3 linked regions of the Homo sapiens genome follow. The protein of the gene in region 2 interacts with the protein of the main gene of each other region in a pairwise test. Each region holds a gene or a part of one and is shown on either strand. Other genes may lie near its edges.

Region 1 (3,479 bases), on a different chromosome or scaffold from region 2:
ACCTGTTTTCTTATAGCTCACTAAAAATGGATATTTCTATTTTTCTTAACTTTGAGGTATAGTTTACATGTAATAAATGGACTCATCTTAAGCATACAGTTCAATTAGTTTTGACCAACATATATGTACAGCCATGTAACCACCATCCCAATCAAGATACAGAATGCTTCCATCACCCCTAAAAAGTTCCCTCTTGCACATTTGCATCAGTTCCCCTTCTCACCCTAGGCTCTAGATAACCACAGATGTTTCCTGTCAGTGTAGGTTACATTCTGTCACTATATAGATGGATTCATACAGCATGTACTTTGGGGGCCTAGATTATTTTGCTTAGCATGTCTTTGAGATCCATCCCTGTTGCTGCTTGAATCAGCATGTCTTCCTTTATTGTTCAGCAAAAGGCCATTTTATAAATATACCAAAACTTGCTTATCAACATGTGAATAAACATTTGGGTCAATTCCAACCTGGGGCTATTGTGAATAAAGCTGCTGTATGCTTATATAGGTCTTTAAGCCATGACTCTCTAAAAAGAGGTAATCCACTTTCATACCTGGGAGGTCTGTGGACTCTAGGTATATCATCCACTATTTCAAATCAAGCAAATTTCCCAGAGGAAAGCCTAGATCTTGTTTTGGGATCAAATTAGCAGGATGAGGCAATGGTGCAAGATATAATTTTGAGAGCATCTTGGAAAGCTATCTGGAAAGCACCTGATCACCCTCCTCCTGTATCAGCAAGAAGCATAAGACTCCTAATGCTCACTGCCTTCCTCTGTCCACGTCTTCTGGCTCCAGACAAGTCTAAGAGTCCTGCCAAGTCAGTCCCTGTCCCCTCCCATGACAGGGGAGGGTCAGAGGAGAAAATAACGACAGGCATCATGCAGTTTAATGCCAGATCCCCTAAATAGCTCCAGAAGGCAGTAGCAGGGTCAGGCTACCCCACAGGCCACTTGAGCATCTGCCCAGTGGCCTCCAGGGTATTCCAGGTACTCTTCTCAGCTGCAAGAGAAATGTGTACTTTATACCTCAGGAGAGTTCTGTGCAGTGATTTACAGGGCCTACCTTCTGGAAGTAGAATGCTAACTTCTTAAGAGCAACAATCCTGCCTTATACGAATTTTTATACATGCAAGGTACATAGCAGATACTCAAATATGGTTCTGGGTAATGTATAATCTAAGCCCAAGATGTAGGCATGGACTCCTGACTTATAAGTATTCAATGTTTAATAGTTAAAATATGGCCTTTAACACTTCCAATGAAATATTTTCAGTTATCACTTTGAAATATTTTTCTTTGGAATTGAAACTAATGATGGAAATTTTATGTAGATGTATTGTAGACAGGTTGTTTTGTACCATTGTATTTTGAGAAAAGCCAGTAAACTTTATTCCTTCTCTTCCCTTCGCCATTCCCCTTCTGTAGCAGGGACCATTTGGGGGATGAACATGGGGGTTTGTTTTAGAGACAGAATCTTGCTTTGTTGTTCAGGCTATTCTGGAACCCCTGGCTTCAAGCTAGCATCCTGCCTCAGCCTGGGATTACAGGGGTGAACCACTGCACCTGGCCAGCAGGGGCCATTTTAGAGTAAGCTTTAAAATTCTAAGTTTTCAAAAAATTAAACTTGAAAAACAAGATAAACTTTGCAGTTATTTTTATTAAAAGCAATATGATAGCGAGTGGCACGTTTGCAATGGGAATCAGATTTTATAGAGAAGAATGGTTTACAGACAGCTTTTTAGGAAAATATCTCCCATCATAAAGGAGGGAGCTAGACCACTAAAGGAAAGCCTTCCGAGCCTTGCAGACCAAGAGAATCTGGACTGGGTCTGCTTGATTATCCAGGAGCTACATCACTAATGTTAGCTCTCATCTATTGCTCGTGGCAGAATGAGGTTTTTTATCAGGCATGTTTCTCTTCCCTCAGTTCACAGACATTGGGACCTTCGAGACAGTGTGGCAAGTCAAGTTCTACAATTACCACAAGCGGGATCACTGCCAGTGGGGAAGCCCCTTCTCTGTCATTGAGTATGAATGCAAGCCCAACGAGACACGCAGTCTGATGTGGGTGAACAAGGAGTCCTTCCTCTGAAAGTGGCTCTTTCTGATGCTACTGGACAATCTTTTCAGAAATCTACTTTTAGATAAACCAGCGCAGGCCTTAAACAAGGCATGCCACACCATTGCTGTTCCCCATCTGGTACTAATGACCTACTAGCCCTGGTTATTTTGAAAGTGTAATTCCCCTCTGACACAATATCCCTCACATACAAGATGGTGATGTACCACTCCCGAGAATATTCCCATCTGTATTTTGTGCTGATGTTCCTGCATCCAGTTGTTCTCGGTCATACTTTTGACCACTTGTGACTGGAGTTCAGTGGCCCTGGCAGGCTTGTCCTGCTCTTGACCATTCCACTGACTAACTTTGGTGTTTTGTTTCCAAGTTAAGTGATTCCTCCTTTTTTTTGTTCAATGTTAAATTTAAAAATAACAATGTGTATGGGTCCTCCCATGTGTAATATGGTAACATGTAACTTGCAGTGTTTGCCAGCTTTCAAAGCAGGCTTTGTGAAAATGTAATACAAACAGCAGTGAATGGGACTCAAATGTTGTGCTTCCTATAAACAGCTCCGCTCTTTCAGGGAAGGATGGTAACAAACTAGAAGGACAAATATGTACGTATTTATAACGTATTAAAACTCTTTTAAGTAGCTTAAGGTATTGTGCAATGGCCTAGCCTAGTAGAAATGGGGGAAAAGCATTGCTGTGGACCATTGTTAAAGTGACAGGAGTTGTAGGGTTACCCCTTTGACAAGCTTCCATAGTCTTCAGACACGCACATTGATGGCATCCCTACAGTCTTCTTCACTTGAACTTTGTAAAACTGCATATGGACCTGTAATCAACTTTTGATATTTCTTAATAAAGGCGTTGAAAATCATGCCCTGACTTGCATTCTTAATTTGGGCAATAATTATCTAGCAGGTGAATCCCTGCTCTAGGCCAGCTTCACTCAGGCCTGTATGCTACAGGATGACGGGGATGTATCCGGAGTAGAATTAGCACACCTATTCATGAATCAAGCCTGACCTTTTAGCAGGATTGCTCCAGCCAAGTTTAACAGGGCTAGCACAGGCCCAGGTGCTTGGCGGGCAATCAAAAAATGCTTGTACCTATCTCGCTCCATTACTCTTTCTGTGGTGACCCCTCCCCAGTTGGTGAGCTATGTGACTCAGTAGCAGGAGAGCAATGGTGCTATAATAGTGTGTGTACATCATGGTTGAGGCCTCCTTGCCTACTTCCAGCACCTTGCACAAAGCCCATATACCATACAGTTTAAGGATAAATTCCATAAGAAGGAAGTGAACTTCCTCTTGAAAAGTAACATGCTATTTTCCAATAATGTAATATTTACTTGGGCAGCACAAATCCTATAGTATTGGAAAAAGTTCGTTGGGGATTGTTTGTTTTTGCT
Region 2 (7,039 bases):
ACTAACTCCTGGCCTCAAGTGATTTACCTGCCTTGGCTTCCCAAAGTGCTGGGATTACAGGAGTGAGCCACTGCTCCCAGCCATAATTCCTTATGATTTATATGGTAGCTTTGAGCATTATCTCCATATAGAATTTTTATGCATAATTTCCAACATCATGCTGTTTGCCAAAAAATAGCCACCTTTAGTAGCTATAAATCGTAATAGACTGGATATGTGACTTGCATTAGCTTTTTTTCCCCACTTAAATTTAAACACGTTTTCCATTTTCTCAGGTTACTTTTGTTTTTTTTTTTTTTTTTTTTTTGATATGAAATCTCACTCTTTTTGCCCAGGGTGAAGTGCAGTGGCACAATCTCAGCTCACTGCAACCCCTGCCTCCCGGGTTCAAGTGATTCTTCTGCCTCAGCCTCCCAAGTAGCTAGGATTACAGGCATTCTCTACCACATCCAGCTAATTTTTGTATATTTAGTAGAGACGGGGTTTCACCATGTTGGCCAGGCTGGTCTCAAACTCCCGACATCCAGTGATCCGCTAGCCTCAGCCTCCCAAAGTGCTGGGATTACAGGTGTGAGCCACCACGCCCAGCCATTTTCTGTTTTAAGGTATTTTTAAAAGGATACCATGTGAAACCAGAGTGTATCATCCATAAACACAGTTAATGTGCCACTGTTTCCTTTTCCTAAAATGGCATTTTTTTTTTGCCTTAGGAAGTACATAATTTTATAGTGTTAACCTACCCGTGAGATTTGCTTAATACATCTTGATGTTCCTTGCCTCGATTAAATATATGGTGTCTTTTTTTTTTCCCATAAGGTATTGTAAGTATTACTGTTGTATTGCAGTCACTTTTCTACAGGTAATGGCTCATTCTTTTGAGACACTTACCTGTAATGATTTCTTGAAAACACATGGGGCCAGGCATGGTGGGTTACTCCAGTAATCCCATTACTTCAGGAGGCTGAGGCAGGCAGATCACCTGAGGTCAGGAGTTTGAGACCAGCCTGGCCAAAATGGCGAAACCCTGTCTCTCCTAAAAATACAAAAATTAGCTGGGTGTGGTGGTGCATGTCTGTAGTTCCAGCTACTGGGAAGGCTGAGGCAGGAGAATCACATGAATCTGGGAGGCGGAGGTTGCAGTGACTGAGATGGTGCCACTGCACTCCACCAGCCTGGATGACAGAACGAAACTCTGTCTCAAAAAAAAAAAAAAAAAAGGAACAAAAAAACACGGACATTCATTCTATTACTATATCCTATTCTATTGCTTTTTTTTTTTTTTTGGGAGACGGAGTCTCTCTCTGTCGCCCAGGCTGGAGTGCAGTGGTGTGATCTCCGCTTACTGCAACCTCCGCCCCCCGGGTTCAAGCGATTCTCCTGCCTCAGTCTATGAAGTAGCTGGGGCTACAGGCGTATGCCACCATGCCCGGCTAAGTTTTGTATTTTATTTTTATTTATTTATTTTTTGAGACGGAGTTTCTCTCGTTGCCCAGGTTGGAGTGCAATGGCACAGTCTCAGCTCACTGCAACCTCTGCCTCCTGGGTTCAAGTGATTCTCCTGCCTCAGCCTCCCCAGTAGCTGGGATTACAGGCATGCGCCACCACACCCGGCTAATTTTTTATTTTTGTGGAGACGGGGTTTCTTTATGTTGGCCGGGTTGGTCTCGAACTCCTGACCTCAGCTGATCTGCCCGCCTCAACCTCCCAAAGTGCTGGGATTACAGGCGTGAGCCACCGTGCCTGGCCTCTTCTGTTGCTATTTTTGGATATGAAGTCCCACAATTCTTTGGTGTTAAATATTTATAATAGCTAAAATCTATTTAAAATATATTCTGAAACTCAGTTTTTTGTACCAGCCTGTAAACACTAATGCCTGACTAGTTTTCCTCACTTTAACTCGGTTTATCAGATAGCTTGCACTAAATTAGAAAGGAGAAAAATTTGAATTTGCAATTTTAAATGGTATGGGAATGTGTGCCATCCTTTTTCATCTTGAGTAAATGTACAATATTTTTTGTTTTATTTTTAGGGTGAAGCAAGAAGCATTTCATTTGCACATCTTTCTTGGACTTGGGATATACAGTTCCAGTTTATTAGCAGCAACTGCTAGGGAAATGATTTTGGTGTTTTGGGTTAATTGCTTCTAAGAAAAGTTTCATAGTGGACTGTTTAGAAGAAGAAATGAAAGATCCAGTTTGGGATTATGAAATAAACCACAAATTAAAATTTTTGTTTAAACTGTCCAGGATCTGATTTAAAAATATGGTCTTTGTTTTATATGATTAAATGGTTTGTTTTCATAGATGATATGTTACTCATTGTAAAGACCACATATTTTTATTCAGCAGTGTTCTTTAAACGGTTTCATTTAAAAAGTAACTTTTTTTTTTTGCCTGTGAATTGAGTGCTCTGATGTAAAACTTCTCATGGAGTGAAACAGTGATTTATTTTAACCAAACATTCACCAAAGCAAAGAACGGTTTCAGACCTTTGAACTGGTATGGTTTGGCAGAATAGTTTTAAATTTTGCTGTATTTGATTACTTAGAGATAGGAATTTTTAAAAATCAAAACAAAAAATACCACAGCTTAGTGTAAATGACAATTTGGCGGTTTTATGTCTTTAGAAATGTTTTGCCTTTCTAAGCCTTGTGCTAAAGGCGTATAACGGTGGTGCCTATCTACTTAAGGGGGCATTCTAGTCTTAACTTAAAAGTTGTCTAAACTGTCCCTCCCTGGCTTTTTTTGGTTTGGGGTAGACCTAAGGGTGTTTGTTAGTCTCAAAACTGTGAAGTGACATGTCAGAACAGTCCAGACTGGTAAGAAAATTAATGGCTTCACTTGAATTTAAACCAGCTCTAGATAGGAAAAAAATCAGTCTCCTCATTTGCTTTTTAAATGGAGTAGTACATCCCATATTTTAGAACAAGTAGGGGTGCCTTGCTTAAATAAAAATAGCATTTAATGTATAATTGTGTGAAGGGTTTATGGATAAAGCTGTACTTCTGTCACAATGTGGCAGTACTTTCTGCTTTAATATTAAACAGCTTGTTATTTAAATATTGGACAAAATGGCTGGCTTCAAAATATAGTCATTAATAAACTAACTTTATGTGCACCTGTGTAGGAGAATCAAAATCCTGTATGCTTTCTTTGCCTTGTTCCTGTTCTCAGGGTGACGACTGCCACCAGGAGATGCAGTTCTAGTTCTTAAAATTAAATTTGCCCAGGTTTCTGACAGGTGATACCTGGAAGAGAGACTATGTCTTCTCTTACTTAATACATAACCATCTTTGATTACCAGCTAAGATGCGAAATCACTGTACTGTAGTCAATAAATGAAGACTTGTTTCAGGCTGAAGATTACCTAAGAGTATTTATTATTGGAGTCTGTGAGTCAACTGAATATATTATTACCTCAAGTCCTGCTATATTAATATAAGTAGTAAGGGTTAATTTTCGTGTGTGTGTTCTCTAAAATCCTGTGAACATGACTTAACCAGCTTAACATCATCAGTAGTACTGCCTAGATGGAAATGCGTTTTCATATATGGTTGAATATGCCAAGCTATGAGAACTGGTATCTGTAGTTGTACGAACTATTAGAATGTGATCTTTGTTGCTCTTTCACATTTGGTATCTGATTTGCTGTGGAAAAGATCTGTGGGGCCTACTGTGAGGAATTCATCTGCAATTGATTTAAGCTAATGAGTTTTATTTGCACATCTCTGGAAAAAGAATGCAAGCAAAGCATTAAAATGCTATATGATGGATGGGTAAGGTTGAAAGGATATATCTTCTTGGCACGCTACAGGCTGAGTTTTCTGTACAAAATGTGGCCATTATTGGGAAATCATTTTATGTATTTGAATGCTCCCTTTTGTTTTTGTTCATGATCTAGGCTAGTACGTAAGTGATTGCTAAGGTGGATGTAGTTATGGGAAAGGAAGAGAAGCACATAATACAGTAAAAGTAATCTTATTTCCATGCAAGTGGAAGACGGTACCGTCTCCCCACATTTGAGAAGACTGTTTTGCATCACTCTTTGCTATTGAAGGAAGCAGTGATGGTGAATTTCCTTCTGTTTGGGTTCCTTGTGTCTATAACTTCCTTTGTGGTAAAGCCATCAGGAAGAATAGTGGGAGTGGGGCATATGGTCAGGGTGCTCATATCCTGCTTTAGCCTAGCTGCTGCTTACGGAGTGCAAGGGAGAACTCTGAGAAGCAGTATGTAAATACCAGGGAGCTGATTGCTGAATATTGTGGTCTCATCTGAATATTGTGGTCTCATCTAAATATTGACACCAGGCAATGAAGCAGAAATAGAGTATGTGTCCCTTTATGCGTGGGTAACTTAAGCTTCTGTCATGTGGGAAGGGGGACCGAATCTTCCCTGGGAGGAAGGCTCCAAATTCTCACTACTTCTGTGTTACTTGAAGGGGGAAGCATAAGGAACCCAGTTTGAAGGCAACATTGTGTGCCATGAATCTGCTTATTAATCAACATGCCTTGTTAATGTCCTCTGCCCTGAACAGCCCTTACTCAGTTCTCATTTGGAAAGTTATTTTTTGGGGTTACATCCTGTTTGTTTCAGAATTTAAAACCCTCCATGGTGGGTCACTTGAGGTCAGGAGTTCAAGATTAGCCTGGCCAACTTAGTGAAACTCCGGCTCTACTGAAAATGCAAAAATTAGCCAGGTGTGGCACACGCCTGTAATCCCAGTTACTTGGGAGGCCAAGGCAGGAGAATCGCTTGAACCTGGGAGGCAGAGGTTGTAGCGAGCCAAGATCACACCATTGCACTCCAGCCTGGGCAACAGAGTGAGACTCTGTCAAAATCAAAAAAACCAAAATACAAAAAACTCCATTGTTCTGAGAGTTTCCCCTAAATTATCGGAAGACACTCACATTGAATTGGTAGGACCTATAGTATAGAGGAGAATGGTATGTATGTCAGCAGTAGAGTTCCAATCCAAATTGCGCTATCGCATTAGAAATACATTACCCTCCCACTCCCCAAGTTCAGCAAATTAGAAGAGAATCTGAAGTTTGTAGGAAGGGAATAAAGCTGCTATAAACATTTATGTGCAGGTTTTTGTGTAGACTCGTTTTCAGCTCCTTTGGGTAAATACCAAGGAACCAGGTTGCTGGATTGTAAGTTAAGAGTATGTTTAGTTTTGGAAGAAACTGCCAAACTGTTCCAACATGACTATTTTGAATTCCCATTGACAATGAATAAGAGTTCCTGTAGCTCCTCACCCTCATTAGTATTTGGTGATGTCACTCTTGCATTTTAGCTAATGGGTGAATAGTGGTCTCATCGTTTTAATTCCCAATCCCATAGTGATGTGGAGCACCTTTTCATATACTTAATCTGCCATCCTTATATCATCATTGGTGAGGTGTCTGGATTTTCTGTCCAGAATTTTAGTTCTAGTGGTTTTCTTATTTTTAGAAAGGAAGTATAGGAAGGAAGGTTTAATCTGTCTTAAGCCTGATTATATGAAAATCAAGAATAGGCTAGGTGTGGTGGCTGACATCTGTAATCCCCGCACTTTGTGAGGCTGAAGTGGGAGGACTGCTTGAGCCTGGGAAGTCAAGCCTGCAGTGAGCCATGACTGTTGCTGCACTCCAGCCTGAGTGACAGAGTGAGACCCTGTCTCAGAAAAAAAAAAAGCAGGCTCATTTTAAAGTTGTTTATATTTTATTTTTTGAAGGAAATAAACTTGAAGAGATACAAACGGTAGTGAAGATTCTCCTTCCCCTCCTGTAATTCAGCTGTTTAGTTTCTATTCTCGCACAGCCCTGTTATCAGTTTCTAGTGTAAGCTTGCAGTGACTTTTACTTTATTTATAAGCAAGTGTTAGTGGGTGTTGTCATTTCTTTTAAAAATATAAATTATACTGTACATGCTATTTTGTATTTTGGCTTTTCTCCCACCTAAACACCCTAAAGATCATTTTCTGTCAGTATATAAAATCTTGGTGATGCCAATACCCATCCCTTAGATTGTACAAGCAGCATTTTGCCATGCTTTATCCCATAGCCTGCCTCCTGCAGTCTCATCTTTTTTTCTATATGCATGTCCAAGTAAGTTGTAGACATTTTTCACTTTTAATCCTTTCAGCATACATGTCATGGGAATTTGTTTTTGTTTTTGTTTTTTGTGTTTGAGACAGTCGCTCTGTCACCCAGGCTGGAGTTATAGTGACGTGATCCCAGCTCATTACAGCCTCCACCTCCCAGTTTCAAGCAATTCTCATGCCTCAGATTCCCGAGTAGCTGGGATTACAGATGTGCACCACCACGCCTGACTAATTTTTGTATTTTTAGTAGAGATGGGGTTTCATCATGTTGGCCAGGCTGGTCTGGAACTCCTGGCCTCCAGTCATTTGCCTGCCTCGGCCTCCCAAAGTGCTGGGATTACAGGCATCAGCCACCACACCCAGCCGTCATTGGAGTTTTTTTGAGGGAGATTTGCAGTAAGGTGAATAAATGTTAAGTGTATCATTTGATGAGGTTTTTTCTTTTTTTTTTTTTTTTTTTGAGATGGAGTCTTGTATCGCCCAGGCTAGAGTGCAGTGGCCTGGTCTTGGCTCACTGCAACCTCCACCTCCTGGGTTCAAGGGAGTCTCCTGCCTCAGCCTCCCGAGTAGCTGGGATTACAGGTGTGAGCCACCATACCCAGACTCATTTGATGAGTTTTGATGTAAAAGCATGTAACTCAAACCCCTATGTCTGGAACATCTGTATTACATCTGAATTTTTTCACCTAGTCAATTCCTGCACCTCTCTCTCCTGTCCCTTCTTCCCTCCCCTGGCAGTCAGCTACTGTTAGGATTTTGTTCACTGTAGATTAATTTTGCCTATTCTAGAACTTCATATAACGGACTCACTTATGCAGTATGTATTCTGTAAGTTCCTTTTACTCAGCATGTTTGTATGTTCATCAGTGTGTTTAAGCTTTGTTCCTTTTTATGGCTGAGCAGTGTTCTATGTATGAATGCCACATTTTAACGTTTCACCTGTTAGGTGAACAAC
Region 3 (7,039 bases), on a different chromosome or scaffold from region 2:
TGGAAATACAAGTTAAAATCTTCTCTGGTTCTGTTTACAATATCCAGTGAGCTGCACAGTCCCGTTGATTGTTTTGGTAATAGTTTTATCTTTTCTTCCTGTTGCCTGTCCCTCTTACCACATCTGCCTTGGGTTACCACATCCCCATCCATCATCACACTGCTGCATGGTGCCTGGCTTATAGTAGGGTTCAGTTCACAGAATGTCCGCTCTGATTTGAGCTAGAGCAGTGACCTTAGAAAGTCACTGAATTAAAATGTGTAGAGCTCTACAAGTAATCAGATTAAATTCATCAAGCATATGTTGAAACCTACTGTGAACAATTTTTGGGAGATCAAAAAATGAATTAAAGGTGTGACACTTCCAAGAAGTGAGCCTGGTGAATAATTGGTGCTCAACAAGTCCTAGGGAAATTATAAGATGCAAGCACTATGCCAACAGGAGTATATTTTAAAAATTATTCTGCTTAGCAAGCCATTTGCATGTTTTCTGGAACTGATCTTTCAGATTGGTTGATAGCTCCAACTGAGTCTTTGAATTTGGTCAGTTGCTACATATGCCTGTTAGTTGATATCAAATCCTGCTAAAATTATTTTCACTGTATGTTGTAAGTTCCTTTGATAATAGTGCTTAAGTGTTAGTTGCTCAAAATGAATGATTAATTGCCTTAGACTTGTAAATCTGTATATGTAACCTCATGTAAGAATTGTATATACAACCTAGGCCAGGCATGGTGGCTCACGATGTTTGTAAACTCTTACTTGCTCATGATGTTTTATCAATCTTAATATGGCTAGTGCTAGTAACACTCAGGATAGCTTATTTGAGCACAGTAAATCTCTGTCAGGCTAATGAAAGGGGAGAGTAGCTCAGAGTCCAAAATAAATACTCCAAAAATGGATCTTTTTTAGCTTGGAGCGCATTTAGTAGATTTAACCTGTCAAGTGTCTTGTTAGGTCAGTTGAAACAATGGTTTTAATTGTTAGCCTGGTGGCTGGGCCGTGGGAGAGACACTTGCTAATATGTTGAGTGGTGGATGGAAATAAGCCCAGGATTATAACTTAGTCAGAGGGATCTTTGAAACAGGTTACACTGGAGAGGTGTCCACTGACTCTATGTGTGTGCTGCATTCCAGGCTTTTCTGAATAAACTGTGTGGAAGAAATATTTTCCTGATGGTTGCCAGTCATTTGACAATTTAAAGTTTCGGCAAGACTAAGTCTTTAAAGCCAAAATGACCTGTAGCGTTCTAGGTCCTTAGGATGGTGCCTACTACCTGGTGTGGAATCTTTGGTATTTCCCTGCTTCCATTGACAGACTTGTCCCAGTGTACTTCTGTCAACAGATGAGTACTTTTTATGTTATTTTTTTATGGTGATAAAACACAGTAAAATTAAATACACCTGAAGTTCTTTGCCAAATAAAGCACACTTTGAGCACATTGATTTATTTATGTATTTCTCTCCACCTTTATTGACACATAAAAATTGCATATATTGGCTGGGTGTGGTGGCTTACGCCTGTAATTCCAACACTTTGGGAGGCTGAGGCACGTGGATCACCTGAGGTTGGGGGTTCGAGACCAGTCTGACCAACATGAAGAAACCCCATCTCTACTAAAAATACAAAATTAGCTGGGCGTGGTGGCACATGCCTGTAATCCCAGCTACTCAGGAGGCTGAGGCAGGAGAATTGCTTGAATCCGGGAGGCAGAGGTTGTGGTGAGGTGAGATCGCACCATCACACTCCAGCCTGGATGACAAGAGCAAAACTGCGTGTCAGAAGAAAAAAGAAATGCATATATTTAAGGTGTACCACATAATGTTTTGATATATAAAAGGTCCTTATCCTTTTTTTTTCTTTTGAGACAGAGTCTCACTTTGTCACTCAGGCTGGAGTGCAGTGGCGTGATCTTGGCTCACTGCAAACTCTGCCTCCTGGGTTCAAGTGATTCTCCTGCCTCAGCCTCCCAAGTAGCTGGGACTACAGGCACCCGCCACCTTGCCCTGTTGGCCAGGCTGATTTTGAACTCCTGACCTCAGGTGATCTGCCCTCCTTGGCCTCCCAAAGTGCTGGGATTATAGACATGAGCCACTGTGCCCGGCCCTTGCCCATTTTTTAATTGGGTTATTTGTTTTTTTGTTGTTGAGTTGTATGAGTTCCTTTTATATTTTGGATAATAACATCTTGTCAGACAGATGGTCTGCAAATATTTTCTCCCATTCTGTAGGTTGCCTTTTCATTTTGTTGCTTGTTTCTTTGTTACATAGAAACATTTTAGTTGCATGTAGTCCCACTTACTTATTTTTGCTTTTATTGCTGGTCTTCTTGGTGTCACATAAAAAATCATTGCCAAGACTAATGTCATGGAGCTTTTCTCCTATGTTTTTTTCTAGGAGTCTTGGTGTTTCAGGGCTAACATTTAAGTCTTTAATCAGCTTTTAGTTGACTTTTGTGTGTGTTGTAAGATAAAGATCCAATTTCATTTTTTTGCACATGGATATCCAGTTTTCCCACCACCATTTATTGACAAGACTGTGCTTTCCCATTGTTTGGTCTTGGTCAAAGATTAGTTGGCCAGACATGTGTGGGTTTATTTCTGGGCTTTCTATTGTTTTCCATTGGTCTATGTATGTGTTTCTATGCTGATACAACACTGTTGTGATGACTGTAGCTTTGTAATATAATTTGAAATTACAAAGTAGGCTGCTTCCAGGTTTGTTCTTGCAAAATTGCTGTAGCTACTTGGGGTCTTTTGCTGTTCCATCCAAATTTTACAATTTTTTTTTCTATTTTTGTGAAAAATGCCATTGGAGTTTTGATAGAAATTGCATTGAATCTGCAGAACACTTTGGGTGGTATGGGCTTTTTAACAATATTAATTCTCTCAATTTATGAACATGGGATATCTTTCCATTTATTTGTGTAATCTTCAGTTTTTTTAATCACTGCTTTATAGTTTTCAGCATACTGATCGTTCCTCTCCTTGTTAAATTTATTCCTAAGTAGTTTATTCTTTTTCATTCTATTCTAAATAGAATTGTTTTCTTAATTTTTTTTTGGATAGTTCATTGTTAGTGTATAGAAGCACAATTGATTTTTGTATGTTGATTTTGTATCTTGTAATTTTGCTGAATTTATTCTAATGGTTTTCTGGTGGAGTCTTTAGGATTTTCTATATATAAGATCATGTCATCTGCAAAAAGAGACAATTTTACGTATTTTTTATTTGGATACCTTTTATTTCTTTCACTTTCCTAATTCACACTTTGAGCATGTTTAAAAGGTATTTCATAAAAAATGTATATGAGGGCCGGGCGCAGTGGCTCATGCCTGTAATCCCAGCACTCTGGGAGGCTGAGGCGGGTGGATCACCTGAGGTCAGGAGTTTGAGACCAGCCTGACCAACATGGTGAAACCCTGTGTCTGCTAAAATACAAAATTAGCCGGGCATGGTGGCAGGCACCTGTAATCCCAGCTACTTGGGAGGCTGAGGCAGGAGAGTCTCTTGCACCTGGGAGGCAGAGGTTGCAGTGACCTGAGATTGCACCATTGCACTCCAGCCTGGGCAATAAGAATAAAACTCCGTCTCAAAAAAAAAGTATATGAGGAATATATTCTTATAGTGCTTTGTGTGAAAAAATAAAATGGTAATGTATAATAAGACTAGAATATATTGGTATACAAGAAAACTTTAGAAAGTGTTGTTTTGTCTTTCATTGCAAATTAAAGGATACCTCTGACATGAGAGTAGTGAACAAGCGGTACGTGGTAATTTTCCTTTATCCTGCCTTTTGCATTTGGTCAAATCAAACAGAGTCAACAGAGAAGGTAATTGAGGCTCCCTCCACAGCTAACTGTTGGTTATCTAGTTCTTTGTTCCATTGGGGCTACAGATGTCAAATTTTTGGGAAATTTTAGCTGCAAATTCGGCTGTATTTTTCTTATTCATTATGAAAATGCCATGTGCTGCTTTGGGAAGTAATACATGCTTCCCTTTCATTGGAAGCATTTAAGTAGAAGTAGGGTAATAATAATGATTAACATGTACTGACAATTTACTTTGTACTATTTATCTTGGTATCAACTCTTTGAGATGAGAACTATTACTATTTTCTATTAAGATGAGAAACCAAGGCCTAGAGAGGTTAAATAGCTGGGATAAAGTGAAAAACTAATGACTGGCAGAGATGGGATTCAAACCTAAGGAGGTCTGATGTTAGAACATACACGCTAACTATTGTTACACACTACCTGTTCCTTGAGGGATGTGAATGGAGGGATTTGCTGTTTTGCTTGGGAGATTGTAATAGAAAGCCTTCCAAGGCTTTCTAACTCTTAAAAGACTAGGACTTTTTTTTTTTCTTTTCTATTTTTTTGAGGCAAGGTCTTGCTCTGTCATTTAGGCTGGAGTACATTGGCATGATTATGGCTCACTGCAGCCTCAACCTCCCTGGCTCAAGCGATTCTCCCACCTTAGCCTCCTAAGTGGCTGGGACTACAGATGTGCACCCAATGCCTGGCTAGTTATTTTATTTTTTTGTAGAGATAGGGCCTCACTGTGTTGCCCAGGTTGGTGTCAAATTCCTGTTCTCAAGCAACCCTCCTGCCTTCACCTCTCAAAGTGCTGGAATTACACGTGTGAGCCACCATGCTGGAACAGAAGGCTGGAATTTTGAAGTGGTCCATGTTACTTGTCAGGCCTACCTTGGTCCTCCTATTTACTGTTCCTCAACTGGGGCCTTCTTATCTCTGCTTATTAGATTGGCCCTCTACCAAAAGCTATCATTACTTGAAGCCTAGAGCAGTTAGCCTCAAATGTTAGGATACTAACCTTTAAAACACATTAGCATTTAAAAAAATTTAGATTCCTGTGGTAGGTCAGAGTTCTGTTTTACTTTGGGATATAGCGTAGTAATTTTCCCCCTTACCCGCATTGTTCCATGTAGTAGTTATTTAGGCAGCCTTAGCACATCCTGAAACAACATCCAGTCCTCCCTGTTCCAGGTTGCCACCTGTCTTTGGTCTTAGTTGAGGTAATAGGATTTTGCTTTGTTTCCCGGATCCTGTTCTGTGTCTATTAACTGTATTTTACCTTAGCCCTTTCCTGAGGCTCTATTCTTTTTTGTTTTTTGAGACAGGGTCTCACTCCCATTGCCCAGGCTGGAGTGCAGTGGTGCAATCTCAGCTCACCACAGCTTCGACTTCCCAGGCTCAAGCCATCCTCCCACCTCAGCCTCCTAAGCAGCGGGGACTGCAGGCGTATGCCACCATGCCTGGCTAATTTTTTTTTGTAGTTTTAGTTGAGACAGGGTTTTACCATGTTGCTCAGGCTGATCTGGGACTCCCAGGCTCAAGAGACCTACCAACCTTGGCCTCCCAAAGTGCTGATTACAGGCATGAGCCTGAGATTCTATTCTAGTAACATGCTTTGTTCTCTGGTTTCTAGAACTGGTCCTGCCACCATCTTTGCCAGACTCTCTCCCAGGGATCAGGTTGGCAGGCTTATCTGAGTTGTCAGATGGCATGGATTTCCGAGAATCTTCTTGTCTTTCCTTTACTGAGCTGTCTTCATCCATTGAAACTCCTGCCACCCTTATACTCCCTTAGCAGCCCTGCTACCTGTGGTTGTAGTTAAGAATATCTCCTACTCCATATTTCAGGAAGGGGCAGGACATTTTTTTTTTTTTGAGATGGAGTCTCGCTCTGTCACCCAGGCTGGAGTGCAGTGGTGTGATCTTGGCTCACTGCAATCTCTGCCTCCCCGGTTCAAGCGATTCTCCGGCCTCAGCCTCCTGAGCAGCTGGGACTACAGACATGTGCCACCATGCCCAGCTAATTTTGAATTTTTAGTGGAGACAGGGTTTCACCATGTTGGCTAGGATGGTCTCAATCTCTTGACCTTGTGATCCGCCTGCCTCGGCCACCCAAAGTGCTGGGATTACAGGCGTGAGCCACTGTGCCCGGCCAAGAACATTTTAAAATCTACCAATCTACCATTTATCCTGCCTTCTTTCCCTTTGAGGTCTCTTGGCTATATGCCACCTCTGCTCTGGAGGATTTTTGCATTTCTTTCTGGTTTGGGGCTTCTTAGAGCTTCCTTTGTAATTAGGATAGAGATAGGAAGAATGATAGACACAAAAGGTGTTTACCTTTGCTGCTTGCTTTACTTGCTATGTGTGTTTCTGCCTCCTGTGCTTGTGTACTCTGGGGCACTGAGCACACCATAGGTGACATGGTGCTAGATATGTTTAATGAGACAGTATGGTGCTGGTCTCCAGTGATGAGTGACAATGGACAACATTCATTCATTCACCCACCTCTTCCACAAATAGTAATAATTTATTTGTGACAGAATCTCACTTTGTTGCCGAGGCTGGAGTGCAGTGCAGTGGTGTGATCTTGGTTCCCTGCAACCTCTGCGTTTTGGGTTCAAGCGATTCTCCTGCCTCAGGCGCCCAAGTAGCTGGGACAACAGGCATGGGCCACCATGCCCGGCTAATTTTTATGTTTCTGGTAGGGATGGGGCTTCACCATGTTGGTCAGGCTGGTCTTCAACTCCTGACCTCAAGTGATCCTCCCGCCTTGGCCTCCCAGGGTGCTGGGATTACAGGCCACAAATAATTATTGAGCATCTACTGTGTGCTTTCTGGAAGTATATGATTTTTCACTCAAGGATTTTATACTTTAGTGGGCAGGGGTAAAATAGATAAATTCACTGCTGTGAGGTACAGTAATACTTAGATAATAGTGTGTGGAGTGTCTTGGGAGCAGCTGGGAGAGGCATTTAACCCAGCGGGTGGTAAGGAGTACTGGAAGGACAGCTTCCTGAAAAAGGTGATACTGAGCTGAGGCTTGAAGATATATTTTAACCTTAAAAATGAATTCCTCAGGGGGAAGAATGGATGCCTTGAAACTTGCTCTCAAGTTTTTCATGTGTTTCTTTTTGTAACTTAATGTCTCTACTTTGCATATGTCCCTTTGGCCTTTGCAGTCTCTATGTCTGTCATTCTTTGCATAATAATTCATATCAAAGGGGA

The links.
Region 1: the proteins of GRSF1 (region 2) and CNRIP1 interact in a two-hybrid assay, tested with the Homo sapiens proteins (one study listed by BioGRID).
Region 3: the proteins of GRSF1 (region 2) and ERO1A interact in a two-hybrid assay, tested with the Homo sapiens proteins (one study listed by BioGRID).

What each region holds. Positions count from the first base shown.
Region 1 is NC_000002.12:68,292,476-68,295,954, reverse strand, and holds the end of CNRIP1 (CB1 cannabinoid receptor-interacting protein 1), read left to right. Parts: intron 1-1,928; coding exon 1,929-2,093; 3' UTR 2,094-2,945; downstream 2,946-3,479.
Region 2 is NC_000004.12:70,815,852-70,822,890, reverse strand, and holds part of GRSF1 (G-rich sequence factor 1), read left to right. Parts: intron 1-2,029; 3' UTR 2,030-7,039. UniProt on the Homo sapiens protein: Regulator of post-transcriptional mitochondrial gene expression, required for assembly of the mitochondrial ribosome and for recruitment of mRNA and lncRNA. Binds RNAs containing the 14 base G-rich element.
Region 3 is NC_000014.9:52,685,525-52,692,563, reverse strand, and holds part of ERO1A (ERO1-like protein alpha isoform 2 precursor), read left to right. Parts: intron 1-7,039. UniProt on the Homo sapiens protein: Oxidoreductase involved in disulfide bond formation in the endoplasmic reticulum. Efficiently reoxidizes P4HB/PDI, the enzyme catalyzing protein disulfide formation, in order to allow P4HB to sustain additional rounds of disulfide formation.